2 separate regions of the Homo sapiens genome follow, and region 1 is linked to region 2. The links come from fine-mapping of genetic effects on gene expression. A gene starts in region 2. The other region holds a variant in brackets. All regions are shown on one strand. Distances are between the middles of the regions.

Region 1 (5,375 bases), 54 kb before region 2:
ATGGAGGATAGGAGGCTGGGAAGGGTTGGGGAAGAGGTGGGGGATAGGGAGGGATTTAAGGAATGTCAAATTCCAGCTAGATGGGAGGAGTAAGTTCTAGCGTTGTATAGCACTGAGCAATGACTACAGTCAACAATGATACATTGTTTTAAATAGCCAGAAGGAGGTTATTAAATGTCCTCAATACAAAAACGATAAATGTTTGAGATGACATGTGTAATTACCCTGATCTGATTGCTACACATTATATGTATCAAAACATCACTATGTACCCCATGAATATGTACTAGTATGTTAATTACAAATTAAATTCAATCCCAAAATATAGCATTTTATAATTAAATCATTTTGAACACACTCCTTGCCATTTGTACTTAAAATGGCATCTGAAAATCTTCCCTGATTGTTCCAGGGAATGCCCTGATACCACCACTGCAACAGTTGACGTGTGGCCCAAAGGTCCTCAAAGCAGACCAGGAAACATAGCCCTGGACATTCCACTATCTTCTTGAAAAACCTAAAGACCTCTTCCAGTCCACTGTCCTTTATGGCCCTTGATACGGTTTGGATTTCTGTCCCCACCCAAATCTCACGTCAAATTGTAATCCACGATGTTGGAAGTGGGGCCTGGTGGGCAGTGACTGGATCTTGGGGGCGGATTTCCCCCTTGCTGTTCTCGTGATGGTGAGTTCCCATGAGATCTGGTTGTTTATAAAAGTGTGTAGCACCTCCCCCTTCTCTTTCTCTCTCCCTCCTGTTCTAGACACGTAGGATGTGCCTGCTTCCCCTTCACCGTCTGCCATGATTGTAAGTTTTCTGGAGCCTCCCCAGCCATGCTTTCTGTAAAGCCTGCAGAACCGTGAGCCAATTAAACCTCTTTTCTTTATAAAGTAGCCAGTCTCCAGTAGTTCGTTATGGCAATGGGAGAACAGACCGATACAGCCCTCAATCTTGTATAACCAGTTATATTTTCTGGCAATGCTATGGAATGGAGTTATTCAACTCTTACTTGCCAAAGGAGCAGAATTTCTGAGGCCTTTTTGATGGCTGATGGAGATGACTGGATAGAATATTAAAAGCGAGACTTTCGGGAAGACAGGTTTGCTGTTTGTGCTCCTTCCAGTAAAGGACGCTTTTAGGTTTTGATTATTTCCTTTCCCCCAACTGCTCCCTTACAAATGAGCTTGAATACACCCAGTTAGGAAAATAATGTGATCTGGTGTAAGCCTTTCCCCCAGTCCTCATGATTGCCTTTAAATTAGCCCTTTAATTCTCAGATGCAAAAGATTGAGATGGTGGTGGCATGGCTGGAAATGGAAAGCCCTTAGAGGTCTTGTCCTAAGACAAACTGGAAATCTTATAGCTGATACTTCCATAGCACTTCCTCCATGCCAAGCACTGTTCTAGAACTCTGTGCATATTATTAACATACTTGATACAACCACCCATGAGTTAGGTCCTACTAACGTCCCCTTTTTTATAGATGAGGGAACTGGGGCACAGATATCCTTTTTCAAGGTCACAAGGCGAGTATGCAGCTGACCGGAGGCCTAACCTAGGTGGTCTGGCTCCAGATTTAGAAAGGAGAACTTCTCTTTTTTTTTTTTTTTTTGAGTCGGAGTCTCAATCTGTTGCCCAGGCTGGAGTGCAGTGGCGCGACGAGAACATTTTTTTGTAGAAAAAGCTCAGCCTTAGGAGCCAGAAAGCCTGCTTCTGAATCCAGGCTCTGCCCCCATCTAGCCAAGCAGTCCTGGGCAAATTATCTGAACCTCAGTTTCCCTCTCGGTTAAATGGGAAGGACTCTCTGGAAGGATCAGAGGTGGTGCATGGAAGACTCCAGGTGCACTAGGGCAGTGAAGAAATGCCAGCAGCCTCCATTTCAAACCTCTCCTGGCTTTCTCCCTATACACAGATACTCAGGCTCTTGTGACCTGGCCAACTCATGCCCGTCATCATGCCAAACTCAGCTTGGAGGGACCACTTTCTCTCGCAAGCAGCGAGGCCATTGTGCGTGCATCTGTGAGCCCGATAACCATGCAAGGGGGGCAGGCAGAAAGGGCTCGGAACCCAGCCTATGGGCTTGGAGGAGGTGGCAGGAGGAATATTCCAGGCAAAGAATGGGTAAGTTAGGCAGAGGGTCAAGGAGGATCAGCACCTGCAAGTGTGCTGCTGGAGGGCGGTTAGGAATTGGAGGGTGATGGGGCCGGGCTGGGGGTGGGCAGGGGCAGTTGGGGGAGGCCCTGCGAGTTTCAGGATCCAACCATGTGGGCGGCAAGACCCGTGAGGAGGCTGCTGCTCCAGGACTCTGGGGCTGGAAGCAGGGCAGGGGAGAGACCACTGCAGGAGACACATCAGTGAGATGGGAGCCTAACCGGATGTGACAGGAGGCAGGAGAGGGTAGAGGGGAAGATAGGGAGGAGGGGGCAGAGGGGAAGATGAGCTGGATCTGCCTGAGCCTCATGGCAGCTGCTGCTATTTAACTTTAAACTGATTACAATTCAATGAAATTTAAAATTCTCTTCCTCAGCCTCACTAGCACATTTCAAATGCTCCAGGTGCACATTTGTGCCTGAGCAAACTCTGCTAGGGAAGCCGGGAGAAAGGCAGGTGGCTACCTGTGGCCAGTGACTGCTCTAGGGGACAGAGCACAAGACACCACTGCCATCCCCATAGGATTGTCTCCTGGCCAGCACGGCCTAGATCATACAGCACCTTGGAGCCCAGAACAGGGCTCAAAAGCAGAGGGAAAGGGTTCATCCCCATGCCGTGCATTCTCCGTGAACAGTCACTCCACCTCTCCAAGAACAAAGACAGCCAGCAGCATAGTCATCTTAGCTTTATTGAGTAAGGCATCCCAATCTCTGCTAAGATTCTTCTAAATGAACGGCTGATTTTTCTGCCAAACTATGCATTGGTCAAAGAGAAATCACCACCTGGCCACCCCATTCTGTCCCCCTACAGGACACTAAGGGTTCTTACAGATAAAGGGACGATGCATTCATGCCTGGAGAACTAATCACACCTGATTTCTCTGGGATCTAAAATAATGTCAAATTTGATTCACTTTATGTAAAGAAAATCTTTTTTTTCTGCAAACCCCTTCAGAACAATGCTGCCATCCATGCAAGATGTGTGTAAGGCCACCTCTGTATACTAAGAATGGTGCCCCAGCAGGTGGAAGGA[T/C]GGCACACCTGCTGAGCGTGGGCACACGCTGCGTTCTACATCTTTGAGACCACCGGTGGGTTCCGGGCATCAGAATCCAGCCACTTAATGAGGATCTGATTCACCTCGGTTGGCCTGGGGGAAAGGGAGAAGTAAAAGAAAAAAATAGCCATTCACACTTGTCTGCACCTACCCAGCCAACTCGAAGGCAGAGGTGAGTGACATGAGTGGCTAAGCCAGGCCAAAGCCAGCACAATGAAACCAGGAAAGCTTTTATGGAAGGTGAACGGGGGGCCCTGCTCTCCCCGACCCCAGGAGCCCCCAACCTCCTTACTTGTCCATCTGTGTCCAGTGCCCACAGTCCTCAATGTGTCCCCTTTTCAGGTGGGGAATCTGAAAGGAAACCCCAGGCAGAAAGGTAAATGGAAGAAGGCAGATGGGTGTGTCTCTAGCTAGTGCAATGGGCAATGGACGCCTTCTCTCTGCTCCCCGCAGGCCACCCTGCCCAAACCCTGCATGATTTAGGAAGGGAATAATGAATGAATGAGACCCCACATCCATGCAGGGGAAAGGAAGGTACAGTCACGGTTGCTGCTTGCAATGGGGGGACAGTGATGTTACTGATGATGTGCTTCAACCATGGTCCTATCCACATGACAAGGTGTATCTTCTGCTGCCGTCTTCCCTCTGAGCACCCGTGCCCTCTCCCGGGGTGCACTGATGACCCTTGTACAGGGCCATTCCCTCACCCAGTCCTCCATGTGCTGGGACATCTGAGGAACGAGCACGAAGTCCTTCTCCGCCGTGACCATCAGGGCCGGAATCAGGATCTGGGGGGAGAACAGGAAACAGAAGTGGCCAGCACTCCACAAAGGAAGCCCTCCCTCCTCCTCTGAAAGACCCCTGCTCGCCACCCTGCTGTGGTCCTGACGTTGTATCTGCCGAACTTTGCACAACAGACTCGTGGTTATTACTGGAGATCTTTAAAATAACAGCTTCAGCAGTGCAGAGGCCAATATGGGTCTTATGTGTGCAGATGTGTGTGAGTGAGAACGTGTGCTGAGCTGCATGTAACTGGGAGAACCGAATTGATGGCACCAAGAAGGCAGAAGACACCCTTGAATGAAGATCAAGATTCCTCTTCCCTGAATTAAATAGATGCTTAAAAGGGGCGACCAAGGTTCCAGAGAAAATGGGGGCAGCCACAGTAGTAATCAATGTGACATGAATGGCAGCAAAGTAACTTCCAATTGCTGGCAAATGAGTTGAACACAGGGAGGCATGCACAGGAAGGCCAGGAAAGCCTCTGTGTTTTTTCCTTTGTTCTCGCTCCACCATTACCCTAATTTCCAAGCAGCTTTGACCCATCCCTGGTTGAGGAACGTGCACTATTTTCATTTACACCCAGAGTGATGGGCATCTCTCCACACCCCTCCCTCCTCCCACAACCAGGAGCCAGGAGAAGGTCAAAAATGATTTTGTGGCTAAAACGAATCCTGAGGCTTCTATGAGGTTTGTAAACTCTAGAAAGTTCCAAGCTAAAATGTGAACTGGGCGGGGGGCGGGGGGGGGAGAGGATGGGATGGGAGGAGGTGGGGGAGGAGAGAGGAAGATCCAGCTGGAAACTGCAGAAGAGAGGCTGGGTGCAGTGGCTCACGCCTGTCATCCCAGCACTTTGGGAGGCCGAGGTGGGTGGATCGCCTGAGCTCAGGAGTTTGAGACCACCCTGCGCAACATGGTGAAGCCCCATCTCTACTAAAACACAAAAAATTCGCTGGGTGTGGTGGCGCACTCCTGTAATTCCAGCTGCTTGGGAGGCTGAGGCAGGAGAATTGCTTGAACCCAGGGGGCAGAGGTTGCAGTGAACCGAGATCGTGCCATTGCATTCTAGCCTGGGCAACTGAGCAAGACTGTCTCAAAAAATAAACTGCAGAAGAGGAGGGTTTCTGACCTTAGCACCATTGGGATTCACCTTCCCAGCGCCTTTGTCAATATTTTCCTCCACGCTTTGAGAGATTTTGTCTGTCCAACTGCAGTTTGGTCATTTTCATCGGTCATATGATGATAATGACAAGGAACACTAATGGAGCTAATAGGTTCCCAGTACTGCTTGTAACAGGTCACATGCCTTCAACCATTTCATCCTTACACAGCTCTGTGAGGGAGGCACTGTTCTTGCCACTTGCATATTGCAGAAGAAGCCACAGTGGATC
Region 2 (5,375 bases):
ATACACTCTCAAAGGATTTCTCAGACAGTTTGCAATAAATAAATCTATCCTTACTCTACAATCCCAAATAGACTATTTGGCAACAGTGACTCTCCAAAACCGCTAAGGTCTAGACCTCCTCACTGCTGAGAAAGGAGGACTTTGCACCTTCTTAGGGGAGGAGTGTTGTTTTTAAACTAACCAGTCAGGGATAGTACAGGATGCTGCCTGGCATTTACAGGAAAAGGCTTCTGAAACCAGACAACACCTTTCAAATTCTTATACCAACCTCTGGAGTTGGGTGACTTGGCTTCTCCCCTTTCTAGGTCCCGTGACAGCCATCTTGCTATTACTCACCTTCAGTCCCTGTATTTTTAACCTCCTCCTCAAATTTGTTTCCTCCAGGATCAAGGCCATCAAGCTACAGATGGTCTTACAAATGGAACCCCAAATGAGCTTAACTCACAACTTCTACCGAGGACTGCTAGACTGACCCACTGGCCCTTTGACTGGCCTAGAGAGTTCCCCTCTGGAGGACACTACAACGGCAGGGCCCCTTCTTTGCCCCTATCCAGCAGGAAGTAGCTAGAGTGGTCATCACCCAGTTCCCAGTAGCAGGTGGGGTGTCCTGTTATGAGGGAGGATTGAGAGGTGAGGCCAGCTGGACTTCCTAGGTCGAGTGGGGACTTGGGGAACTTTCCTGTCTTACAAGAGAATTGTAAAATGCACCAATCAGCGCTCTGTAAAACGCACAATCAGCAGCATTCTAAAAGTAGCCAATCACGGGGAGGATTGAAAAAAGGGCACTCTGATAGGACAGAAATGGAACATGGGAGAGGACAATAAGGGAATAAAAGCTGGCCACCCCAGCCAGTAGCGGCAACCTGCTGGGGTCCCCTTCCATGCTGTGGAAGCTTTGTGCTTTCGCTGTTCACGATAAACCTTGCTATCACTCACTCTTTGGGTCTGCGCCATCTTTACGAGTGTAACACTCACTGCGAAGGTCCACAGCTCCATTCTTGAAGTCAGCAAGACCACGAACCCACCGACAGGAACCAACTCTGGACACAACTATAGCCTCCAACTCCTGGGCTCAGGCAATCCTTCTGCCTTAGCCTCCCAAGTAGCTGGGGCTACATGCATGCACTAATGTCTAGCTAATTTTATTTTTATTTTTGGAGAGACAGGGTCTTGCTCTTTCACCCAGGCTGGTCTTGAACTCTCAGCCTCAAGTGATCCTCCCACCTTAGCTTCCCAAAGCACAGAGATTACATGCCTTTCCCTCAAGCTACTTGCCATCTCATCTTCCTTACTATATTAAAAGCAAAGGCTCCGGACATGGACTACTGGGGTTGGATTTCTGGCTCTGCTCTTTAACAGCTATGTGATTTGGACAGCTGGTTTCTTTCTGTGCCTCAGTTTCCTCATATGTAAAAGGAGGATATGAACAATGGCTTCCATGCCTGGCCTTCTTTTTCACTTTATAAATAAGTATACTTCTCTCCTTTCTGAATGTGGGAATAATACATTGTTTATAAATTTAGAAGTTGGAAACTACAAAAAAAAAAAACACAAAAAAAAGAGAGAGAGAAAGAAAATCATTACATTATTCCTAATCTCATTTGATGTACTTTGGCCTATTTCTTTCAGGCACTTTTCTGCATGTACCTTTTTTCCATAGCTGAAACCATATTGTATAAATAGCTTCAGATTCTGGTGGGGTGGTTTTTTCATGTAGTAGAACAGGTGTTTTCCCAAGTCCCTGAGCTCTCACTCTGCACACCCCATCTACCATTTCCCAGTGATGTGGCTTTGGGCGGTTGCTGCAGTTTGCTATTACACAAGTAAGCATGCAACCCACACCTGGGGAGAGAACTTTCTTCTCTCCTGAATCTCGGCTCGCATCTTTAAGCGCCACCCCATTAGACAGGAGGCAGCAGAAGCACAAAGCTCCATGAGTAACTCCTCTCCCTTTTGGAAAAGTTCACAGAAAGCAATTTTGGAGACCTTGGCAACGTTTAATTATGAACATTTAGAAAGACAACGGATCTCCTCATATGCACTGGGACTTCAGGGCCAGGTCTTCAGTTTCATGATTCGCATGATTCGCAGGGCTCCGGCACAGGAGCAATCTGAAAGCTGGGCTGCAAGCCCAGCGCGGTCTGCCTCCTGAGGCCCCGACCCACTGCGGCGGCGGCGCTGGGCCCCCTTACCTGGGCAGCGCCAGGGCCTCCTCCGTGCGGCCGAGGACGCCGAACACCGCTGGCAGCGCCAGCACCCCGTCAAGGTCGAAGACGGCCGCGCGCAGCGTCATGGCGGCGGGTCTGCAGCCTAGCACCCGGACACGCAGCTAACCTGGGAGATGCGCGAAGGCCAGGGCGCATGACCCGCCCAGCTTGGCCCGGCTCTGCCCCGCCCCTGCCCTGGCCCCGCCTCCTCCCCACACCCCCTTAACGGGACTCCGCCCTCTGCCCGGGTTAAGGCTGGACTCTGGCCGGGAAAGAGGCAGGGGGAGGGGCACAGGAAAGGGAGTCAGAGGGAGAGGAAGAGGAGGCCGGGAAGGCGGGGACCCCAGGCTAGAATCTCGCCTCTGGATGTAACGCTTTCTACTGTCTCAAAGGAAAGTCCAAAGTCTCTTATGCCCCCTCCCCACGCCCCTGCAGTAGCTGCTTGAAGAGGCAAACCCAGGCCCGGGCCTTCCTGGACGGACTGACAGCTCCCTGCGAACTTGCTGGACTTGGAATGCCTGGGAAAGAGGCCACAGACTCTGTGTGTGTGTGTGTGTGTGTGTGTGTGTGTGTGTGTGTGTGTGTGTGTGTGTGTCAGCACATCCAGTGACTTCTACATTCAGAACATAAGACCGTGTTGGGGGGCGGGGGAGGGGCATATCCAGTGACTTTTCTAGATTCAGAACGAAGGATCACAGATCCCTCACTATCCTGACCACTCCTCTAGGCACGCTCTTCTTTGCCAAGGCAAATGTGTTTCTAGAATAAAATATGATGTTCCAGCTATCGTGTGCCAGCCCAGAATACTTCGATTTCAATCTCTTGTGGAATGAAGCTTAGAAGAACTAAATGTAGGCTATTATTTTCCTTTTGTACATGCTACTTGTAATAATTCTGTCTTAAAATGTGCGAGGTTTGTTTTTAATCACCGATTTCCACACTATTGGCTCGTTTATGTTCCTAGAAAAACTAAAACTTTGGCTGGGAGTTCTTGAGCTGTTGTAGTGCAGCTCCATGAATTAAAAACCGTGTCTTTGGTGGAGACCAAACAGAGTGAGTGAGGTCTCCAACAGTGGAGAATTTACTCTTGAATGTGTCTCTGTGGATTTATCCAAGATACCCTCCACCACGGAGCTTCAAGAACCTTGTGAGGGGTTGTCAGATACCTCACTGTAACTGGGAGGTCTACAACAGTCTCTGGATCTAGCAATCAACAACAGGATTGACCAGAGCCGTGGGTTTCCTCTGGGCTGTTTGCCCTTAGCAAGCTATGCTGTTGCTTCCTTCTCTAGCTTGGTAACCTCTTCCAGGCTCCTGCCTGGAGCAGTTATTAGTGTTTTCTGAGATTCTTGCCAAAGAAGCAGAGAGTGGCCAACACTGCCAAATGTTACAGGAAGAACTGAAAAAAAAGCTGTCCAATTTTGGACTTGGATGACACCGGATGTTTCAGAACACTTTTTGTGGGCCCTTTATGGTAGAAACTGGATTACTCTGGATTTGAAGACTGAAAGATAGGCAGAGAAGGGAGTACAGCAAGCTAGTTTCTCATGAAGTTAGTTGATCTCAAAGGTATAATTGAATTTTAAAAAATAGAAAGAAAATTGCAGCCTGACCTATATAGTATGAAACCTGTTAAATCTCCAGATTGGGCATGGTGGCACACACCTGTAATCCCAGCACTTTGGGGCTGAGGTGGGAGAATTGCTTGAGGCCAGGAGTTTGAGACAAGCCTGGGCAACAAAGCAAGACATTCTCTCTATAAAAAATAAAAATAAAATATTAGCTAGGCATGGTGGTGCATGCCAGTAGTCTCTGCTATTCAGGAGGCTGAGGTGGGACGATCACTTTAGCCCAGGAAGTGGAGGCTGCAGTGAGCCATGATTGTGCCACTGCACTCCATCCAGCCTGGGTGACACAGCAAGACTCTACCTCCAAAAAAAAAAAAGAAAGAAATTAAATCTCCAACTTAGAGTTTCCTTTGGGCTCCAGACTTGCCAACTTCTTACTCAACATCTTACTCAACGTCAATATCCAACTTCTTACTGAACATCTTCTCTTGAGTGTCTAACAGGCATCTCAAATTTATCATGGCTAAAACAGAACTCTCTCTGCATTTCTACTTCCCACGCCTGTTCCTCCTAGTGTGTTCCCTATCTTACAAACTGGCATCCCCATTGACTCAGTGGCTCAGTCCCGAGACCACGGAGTTGCTTCCAGATCCTTGGCTCCCAGCCAAACCATATGTTCGTGTTTCTAGCGGTGGCCTGCTGATTGAGGCAGAGATAGCAGCTTCTAGTTCTATGGTGGTGTTTTCTGGGAGTCCTTCCTAAAGGCTCAGTCTGGAGCTCACTCCTCCATTCCGTTCAAAGATTGTGTAGGCTTGCAGTCTCTCATCTTAAATCCCTTTCTTCTGTTTCTATTTAAAATAACTACAGTGATTTCTGTTGCCTGCATCTGAATTCTGCATCTAGCACAGTATTGCTTATGAATACGTAAGTATATTTATACAAGCAGTAAAGTGTAGAGGAACGACATACCTACAGAACTAGATTTCATAAAGCCCCCTTTTGAGAAGAAAAATTTAAAAACATAGAAATATGAGTTTTACTTTCCTCTTTGGTTAAGAGAAAGCCATGAAGCTATCACATGGACTTTTATTTATTCAGGAGCAGTTAACTTGTAAATAGCTCTGGTGTGGAATATTTTTATAATGCCTTGTGAGTTACAGAGCTTTCTGGCTGAATTGCTTAGGCAAAGATTAAAGGTCTCAATTGCATTTCACTGCACTTTGCCCTTTTTCATGGTCGTGCTTCTCCTGTGTTTTCTGCTACTAAGGTACAGAGAGATAAGGGCTTACCCAGCAGGGCTATGGGAACTGGGTGGCTTTTTGAAATGTAAATCCTAACCCCTATGTCTTCTAATTTTAATATTTATGAAATATGTTTTAGGTGATAGCATGAATCATAAAAGATGGCTAATGTAGTAGTGAAAATTTATAAATTACACCTGATTTCAATCACTAAATTCATAATGAATGTACACTGACCTCATTAAGGTTTATTTTGGGTTTTCTGCCATTCCTGTGCCTTCTGCAACTTCCTGCTAGTCCTTGATTGTCAAACCCTATTTTATAAAATCTGTTTAACCACTAGGGGTTGGGAGGGAGGA

The links. PIP is the estimated chance that this variant, and not a neighbour inherited with it, causes the effect.
Region 1: its variant is fine-mapped to the expression of EPHX2 in whole blood (INTERVAL, PIP above 0.99).

Annotation. Positions count from the first base shown.
Region 1 is chr8:27,542,366-27,547,740 of GRCh38, reverse strand. It overlaps EPHX2 (epoxide hydrolase 2), which reads right to left. Exons shown (of 19, transcript NM_001979.6): 17 at 3,912-3,992; 18 at 3,497-3,555; 19 at 2,177-3,297. The coding sequence ends at 3,219. Among named protein-coding and RNA genes, the nearest start is that of EPHX2, 54 kb to the right of the region's middle. The variant T/C (reference allele first, on the strand shown) is at 3,184.
Region 2 is chr8:27,488,127-27,493,501 of GRCh38, reverse strand. It overlaps EPHX2 (epoxide hydrolase 2), which reads right to left and starts at 2,359. Exons shown (of 19, transcript NM_001979.6): 1 at 2,193-2,359. The coding sequence starts at 2,293. RefSeq lists a silencer at 2,276-2,555 and a cis regulatory region at 4,302-4,616.